Homo sapiens: one gene and its partner. The protein of the gene in region 1 interacts with the protein of each later gene in a pairwise test. Each region holds a gene or a part of one and is shown in the gene's direction. Other genes may lie near its edges. The genes, in order: SLF2 and CBS.

Region 1 (3,846 bases):
AGTTGAAGTCTTGCTTTGGTACCTAGGCTGGTCTTGAACTCCTGGGCTCAAGTTATCTTCCCACCTCAGCCTCCTGAGTAGCTGGGACTATATAGGCACACACCACTGCACCAGGTTAAAGTGAATTTTTTTTTTTTTTTTTGAAACGGAGTCTTGCTCTGTTGCCCAGACTGGCGTGCAGTGGTGCCGTCTTGGCTCAGTGCAACCACCACCTCCCAGGTTCAAGCGATTCTCCTGTCTTGGCCTCCCAAGTAGCTGGGAGTACAGGCACGCACCACCATGCCTGGCTAATTTTTGTATTTTCAGTAGAGACAGGGTTTCACCATGTTGGCCAGGCTGGTCTCAAACTCCTGACCTCAAGTGATCTGCCCACTCCGGCCTCCCAAAATGCTGGGATTACAGGTGTGACCCACCGCACTCAGCCCACAATATGAATTTTTAAAAACTGGTTCATTCAAATGTATGTGGTTATTAAAGTACTTCTGGATGGGGCTATAATAAATATAGCTTATATTAGTTTCCTAGGGCTGCCATAACAAAGTGCCAAAACCAGGGTGGCTTAAAACAACAGGAATTATTGTTTCACAGTTCTGGAAGCTAGAAGTTTGAAATCAGGATATCAATAGGGCCGTAATGTCTCTGGCAACTCTAGGGGAGAATACTTCCTTACCTCGTCTAGCTTCTGGTGTTTGCCTGCAATCTTTGGCATTTCTTGACTTACAGCTGCATCACTCCAGTCACATAGCATCTTTTCCTTGTGTATTTTCACCTTGTATTCCCTCTGTGCATGTCTGTCTTTGTCTCCAAAGACAAAGACACCTTTTGTAAGTACACCAGTCATACTGCATTGGGACACAGCGTGATTTTTTTTTTTTTAATGAGAAATTAACATTTATCTGCCTTCAAGTGTTTATCCTATACGTGTTTTAAGGTACTATACATTTAAATGTAGAAGTGTTACATTTCTGCAACCAGGTAGTCCTAGGTCTAAAAGAATTTCCAGAAGTACCTATGGCATCCTTAACTTGGTACAAATATGCAGTTGTTTGTTTTAGGGAGTGGCATCTTTAATTCTGTTAAGGTGGTAAACTTTTCATAGCTTTGGAATGAAAATGAGCATTTGTCATTAGCTTTAAATTTCTTGGACACCAGTATTTATCCAGTTGATAAGTAACTCTTTTTCTGCATTCCATATATGGTGACTAATCTCAGCCTTAATACTTAGAATTTTAAACCTTTCATTAGGGTGTTCTAGACACTGAATAAACTTTACTAAAGTTGGAAAGTATATTTTTCACTAATCTAACAAAAATTAAATTTTAGCAGGCTCTAAGCAGAATAAATTCCCTGAAAAAAGAAAAAGGAACTCTGTGGACTCAGATCTGAAAAGCACAAGAGAATCTATGATACCAAAAGCAAGAGAGTCCTTCCTTGAGAAGCGTCCTGATGGACCACATCAGAAAGAAAAATTTATAAAACATATTGCACTGAAGACACCTGGTGATGTGTTGCGCTTAGAAGATATATCCAAGGAACCGAGTGATGAAACTGATGGCTCTTCTGCAGGCTTGGCACCTTCAAATTCTGGCAATTCTGGCCACCATTCTACCAGGAATAGTGACCAAATCCAAGTGGCAGGTACCAAGGAGACTAAGATGCAGAAACCCCACTTACCTTTATCTCAGGAAAAGTCTGCAATTAAAAAAGCTAGCAACCTTCAGAAAAATAAAACCGCTAGCTCCACGACAAAGGAGAAGGAGACAAAACTACCTTTACTTTCCCGTGTTCCAAGTGCTGGTTCCTCTCTAGTACCATTAAATGCTAAAAATTGTGCTCTTCCAGTTTCTAAAAAAGATAAAGAGCGTTCCTCATCTAAAGAATGTTCTGGGCATTCTACAGAATCCACCAAACACAAGGAACACAAAGCAAAGACTAATAAGGCCGATTCTAATGTATCTTCAGGGAAAATTTCTGGGGGACCTTTGCGCTCAGAATATGGCACTCCTACAAAGTCTCCCCCTGCTGCTTTGGAAGTTGTGCCATGTATCCCAAGCCCTGCAGCACCTTCAGATAAAGCCCCTTCAGAAGGAGAGAGTTCAGGAAATTCCAATGCAGGTAGCAGTGCACTGAAAAGAAAACTAAGGGGTGATTTTGATAGTGATGAAGAAAGTTTAGGTTACAACCTAGACAGTGATGAGGAAGAGGAAACATTAAAGTCACTGGAAGAAATAATGGCTTTGAACTTCAATCAGACTCCTGCAGCTACAGGAAAGCCTCCTGCTCTTTCCAAGGGGCTTAGATCTCAGTCATCAGACTATACAGTAAGTAGTTCTGTGACGTTTATCTTTACTTGAAGAGGGAAAGATGATTAATTAGTGAAAGGGGTGGATTATCGGAACTTACTTTAAAATTTAGTATTTATTATAACTCATATTTGTACTGAAAATGGAATAATTCTTGTTTGGTAAATGAGTTTCCATATCTTTAGTTTTATTACTGTAAGTCAGTGGTCTCCAAACTCTTTTGATCACACACACTTAACAATTTTTGAGCATGTACCCCAACATATATGTATACCTTTAGATTATATATATGTACCACTGTAATACTGTGTACTTTCTAAAGCATATGCAAAAACAGAATTTAAAAGGAAGAAGAAGAGAAAAATAAGTATTTTCCTGTAGAAGTGACGTAGAAGTTACTATAGACTAAGTTCTACTGGAGTCTCTATAGAAGTTCCATATAAATAGAAGTTCTATTATTTTCTTCCTGCACCCCAATGGATCACCTTGCACACCCCCTGCTTTGGAGACCACATCTGTAAATGAAGGTAGAGTGTAGAAATGTTGTTGATTGTGGTGTGCAATTTTATTTATAAAGTGCTTCATTCTATCTTGGGAATAAGCTGAATTAAATTCTAAGATGTCTGTAAAATTTGGTGGGGAAGGTGTTAATATTCCATGGTAACACCTAAAAATTAGTAGTTTGATTCTACTAAAATAGAATTTAAAAGTAAAGACAGGGTAGCCACAGAGTCCTTGAGTGTTTGCAGTCACATCTCAAAGTTAGCAGGGTTTTATAAGTACTGCCTTTCCTAATAGGTAGTAAAATCAAATTGTCTGCAGTGCAAAATACTAGATTTAAAGCATGATGGTGAAAATTATCCTTTAAGAAAGGTGTTATCCTGGCCCAGATTATTGAAATAGAAAATAGTCTTTCGTACCCTTAATTACTTAAAACATCCCAGTTCTTCTACTAAGACATGTGGTAAAGTATTTCTAAATGTTCTTGTTTTAGGGACATGTTCATCCTGGAACTTACACAAATACCTTAGAACGTCTAGTGAAGGAAATGGAAGACACACAAAGGTTTGTTAGCATAAAGATTAATTTGCTAAATTTAACATTTTGCTTGTTTGTGTGGCTTACTTTTAATTTACCTTTTTTAAAAAATCATGAGAAATTAGCGTGCATTTTGGACTCTGTTGTCAACTGTGTTAGAATAAGATATGTTGGCCGGACGCAGTGGCTCATGCCTGTAATCACAACACTTTGGGAGACCCAGGCAAGATTACTTGAGCCCAGGAGTTCAAGGCTGCGGTGAGTCGTGATGGCGCCACTTCACTGCAGCCTGGGTGGCAGAGTGAGACCCAGTCTCAAATGAAAAAAAGAGGCCAGGTGTGATGGCTCATGCCTGTAATCCAGTACTTTAGGAGGCCAAAGCAGGCAAATCTCTTGAGCCCAGGAGTTTGAGACTAGCCTGGGCAACATGGTGAAACCCCATCTCTACAAAAAATACAAAAATTAGCCAGTCATGGTGCCACATACCTATGGTCCCAGCTACTCA
Region 2 (3,780 bases), on another chromosome or scaffold:
ATCGCGCAAGAGGGGCTGCTGTGCGGTGAGTGGGTGGCGGGCACGGGGGTATGGGGAAGGCAGAGATGGCTAGGGGGCACTGGGGATGGCTGGGGGCGCACCCTCAGTCAGCCACCGACCTGCATGTGTAAGACAGCAGTTCTGAGGAGTGTCACTGCGGCGGCCACGAGCCTCAGGTGTTGTCTGCCTGCCCAGTGTGGTCACCTGCTCAGGTGAGGGCAGGAGGCCATGGGGCGGGGCTTCGAGCTGCCTTCCAGAATGTGTTTCTAGAACAAGGCTGAAGCTCTCATGGCACTTATTGTTTCTAATCAAGTCCACCAGGGCCCCTGGGGCGGTGGCTCTGCATTGACGGGGCCCATGGCCGGGACTGGGTGCTGCGAGCACCCTGGAGCAGCTGGGGAGGGGACTGGAGCCTGAGGCTGTCCAGCTCGACCCCGCTCACCTTCCTCCTACCCCGTGCCCCTCTGCCCACCTGCTTGGGGGTGGACAGACCAGGTGGCCGCTGGCAATGCCACTGACTAGCCACACAGGCAGCAGAGGCCCTGTAGGGACCACAGTTGATCTAGACCTCTGGGGACTCGGAGAGCACACACCAGCTTCTAAAACGCAGGCAGGGACATGTGAGGTTTCTACATGTGCATTCCGTGTGTCATGTCACTTTGGGGGTGGTGACAGGGAAAGTGGAAGGAAACCAGCCCTCAGCATGGCCAAGTCCCCCGTTAGCTGAGCCCCAAACTAGAGATTGGAAGAAAGTCTTGATTGAAAAACCATTTCCCAGCCAGGCGCGTTGGCTCATGCCTATAATCCCAGCACTTTGGGAGGTCGAGGCGGGTGGATCACCTGAGGTCAGGAGTTCAAGACCAGCCTGGCCAACAGGGAGAAACCCCGTCTCTACTAAAAATACCAAAAAAAAAAAAAAAAGTAGCCGATGTAATGGTGCATGCCTGTAATCCCAGCTACTCGGGAGGCTGAGGCAAGAGAATTGCTTGAACCTGGGAGGTGGAGGTTGCAGTGAGCCGAGATCACGCCATTGCACTCCAGCCTGGGTGATAAGAGCAAAAACTCCATCTCAAAAAAAAAAAAAAGAAAAGAAAAGCATTTTCCAGATGAATCTGTCACGAAAGGTGACTTGGTGCCCATAATCGTTGGGCTCTCCCTGTCTCAGTCTCCCTGCTCCCCATGTTGGTGGAGAAACAAGCCCCTGCCTTTGGGGCTGGAAAGCAGGTCCATGGGCCCCGTTACAGAGGAGGGTGCCTCTCTTCCTGTGGGGGCTCCTACTGCAGACTTAGACCTTCCCGACTGCTGTGTGCACCCTCAAACTAAGCCCAGAGAAGACGCCTCTGACTCTGACTTCAGGGCTCCTAGGGACAGCTGGTGTCACTGTGAGCCTTGGTCTCTTGTTTATAAAGCAGAGCCCAGTGTGCAGTCAGGCAGCCTGCAGGCGTGGTGCTGGGGGCTCCGTCCTCGTAGCATCGCTGGCTCTAGGCTCAGGGCCAGGAGGTTTGCCAGGGGCCGCAGCCCCACTGCAGGCATTTCCCTGGCACCAGTGCCCACCCCAGCTCATTATGAAGCCCCGAGTGGACACAGAAACTCCATGGTGCACAAGGAAGAAGCCGATGCTCACGGAGAAGTGGGGTCCTCCCAGCCCCTCTCCCCGAGGCAACCCCTCTTGACGGATCCTTCGGAGTGTGTCTGACATGCTCCCATGCGTGCACGTGCACAATTCATGCATACGTGTGCACCCACGCACGCTCACCCTGGCGCGTCTGACTCGTGGCCCTCTCTGCAGGTGGCAGTGCTGGCAGCACGGTGGCGGTGGCCGTGAAGGCCGCGCAGGAGCTGCAGGAGGGCCAGCGCTGCGTGGTCATTCTGCCCGACTCAGTGCGGAACTACATGTAAGACACGGCTTCCCTCCCAGGTCCCTGCTCCTCTCCATCCTGCCACCCTTCCCTGGATGCCTCTCACGCCTCACCTGAGAACCGGCAGCCAGAACTGGGAGGGGAGGAGGCCAGCGGGGCCCTGTGAGCACCGCCTCCACTCTCCTGCCCACGTGCCCTCACGCTGTGGGGCTTCCCAGCCTCTTAATGCTGTGAAAATCAATGCACACTCGCAGTGACAGCCCTGACAGGAGGGGCATGAAAGACGGTGGCTCCCTCTCTGTCCCTCCTGTCCCTTCCTCTCTGGTGTCTGTCCCCCTCACTGCTCTGGGGTCCGTGAGCTCCAACGGGTAGCCCTGGCCACATGGACTGACGTCCTCTTGGGCCGGGCCCTGTGCCACCTCCTATCCACCCTGACTCCCTCTGCTGCTTCCCCCAAACTCCAGATTGGGACCGAGTGCTGCCCAGGTGGCCCCCTAGGACTTGCTGTGACTGTTTTGCCCAGAGGCCCCTCGGACAGTAACGCCACAGACCTCGCTGGTCACCGGGCAGCCAGGCTGAGACTGGCGCTGCTCTGCACCTGGTCTCCGGAGGCGGTACCAGGGCGGGTGTCTACAGACCCCCATGCCCTGTCCCCTGCACCTGCAGGGTTTCCTCCATGGCCTGCAAGCTGCAGCGGCTACACAGCTCCCGAGAGCTCAGCTGCCCTTGGAGGGCCAGGCCTGGCTGGTGGGTGCCCCCAGTTGGGTTCCCCAGTGTGGGGTGATTCACATCTGGTGCCCAGGGTCAAGATGCCCTGTGCAGGGCTCCTGCCCACCCCCGTCAGTGCAAGAACACCATCTCCCCACATACTTGGCCAGCCTGCCATGTGTACCTGTGCGTGTGAGTGTGTGAGGGGCAGAGAGCGAGCATGAGAGGACGTGTTTATCTGAGTGCCTGAGCGATGGCTGTGTGCATGCTCACACACGCTTGTTGGCCATGGGGGCGGGAAGTCCAGCCCCCAGGCTTCCCCCTGGGGCTTCCAGCCAGCACTTGGGGGTCTCTGCTGCACCAGTGAGGTCCAGGAGAGGGGCTGGGCAGGCAGTGCGTGCCACTCAGCAGGGGCGGGGGCCCGGTGGGGCCCTGCGGGGACTCGGTGACTCCCCCATCCCGCAGGACCAAGTTCCTGAGCGACAGGTGGATGCTGCAGAAGGGCTTTCTGAAGGAGGAGGACCTCACGGAGAAGAAGCCCTGGTAAGACCGCTCGGCCGGAGACCCGCTGCCTGTGCTGGCCCTGCCCAGTGTGACAGGCAGGAGAGCACTCCCCCGTGGCCTGTGCTGGCCCTGCCCAGTGTGACAGGCAGGAGAGCGGTCCCCGTGGCCTGTGCTGGCCCTGCCCAGTGTGACAGGCAGGAGAGCGGTCCCTGTGGCCTCCTGCTGAGGTGCTGCCGGCGGGGGTGCGAGAGCGTTTGTCCTTATCCTGATCCCCCCGACCTGCCCTCTTCCCTCAGGTGGTGGCACCTCCGTGTTCAGGAGCTGGGCCTGTCAGCCCCGCTGACCGTGCTCCCGACCATCACCTGTGGGCACACCATCGAGATCCTCCGGGAGAAGGGCTTCGACCAGGCGCCCGTGGTGGATGAGGCGGGGTCAGTCTCAGCCCCTGCTCAGAGCTCAGTCCTGGGTTCTGTCTGCCCAGCTCCACCCCGTCAGTGTCACTGGACAGGGCAGCCATGCAGACCCTGCAGCTGGGCTGATAGGCCCGCCTGGGCCGCCTCATACAGACGTTCAGGGCATTGGAGGCCCCTTGCCGGTCCCTGAGCAGCCTGGGGCAGGGCTGCCGTGCTCACTCCAGGCCCTCAGACCTCAGCCCACCCACCCTTTGTGTGCAGGCTGTCCTGGGCCCACCTGGAGGTCAGGGGAGAGA

Evidence for each region.
Region 2: the proteins of SLF2 (region 1) and CBS interact in a two-hybrid assay, tested with the Homo sapiens proteins (one large-scale study listed by BioGRID).

The regions. Positions count from the first base shown.
Region 1 is NC_000010.11:100,922,652-100,926,497, forward strand, and holds part of SLF2 (SMC5-SMC6 complex localization factor protein 2), read left to right. Parts: intron 1-1,323; coding exon 1,324-2,321; intron 2,322-3,297; coding exon 3,298-3,368; intron 3,369-3,846. UniProt on the Homo sapiens protein: Plays a role in the DNA damage response (DDR) pathway by regulating postreplication repair of UV-damaged DNA and genomic stability maintenance.
Region 2 is NC_000021.9:43,058,556-43,062,335, reverse strand, and holds part of CBS (cystathionine beta-synthase), read left to right. Parts: coding exon 1-25; intron 26-1,789; coding exon 1,790-1,895; intron 1,896-3,032; coding exon 3,033-3,110; intron 3,111-3,367; coding exon 3,368-3,502; intron 3,503-3,780. UniProt on the Homo sapiens protein: Hydro-lyase catalyzing the first step of the transsulfuration pathway, where the hydroxyl group of L-serine is displaced by L-homocysteine in a beta-replacement reaction to form L-cystathionine, the precursor of L-cysteine.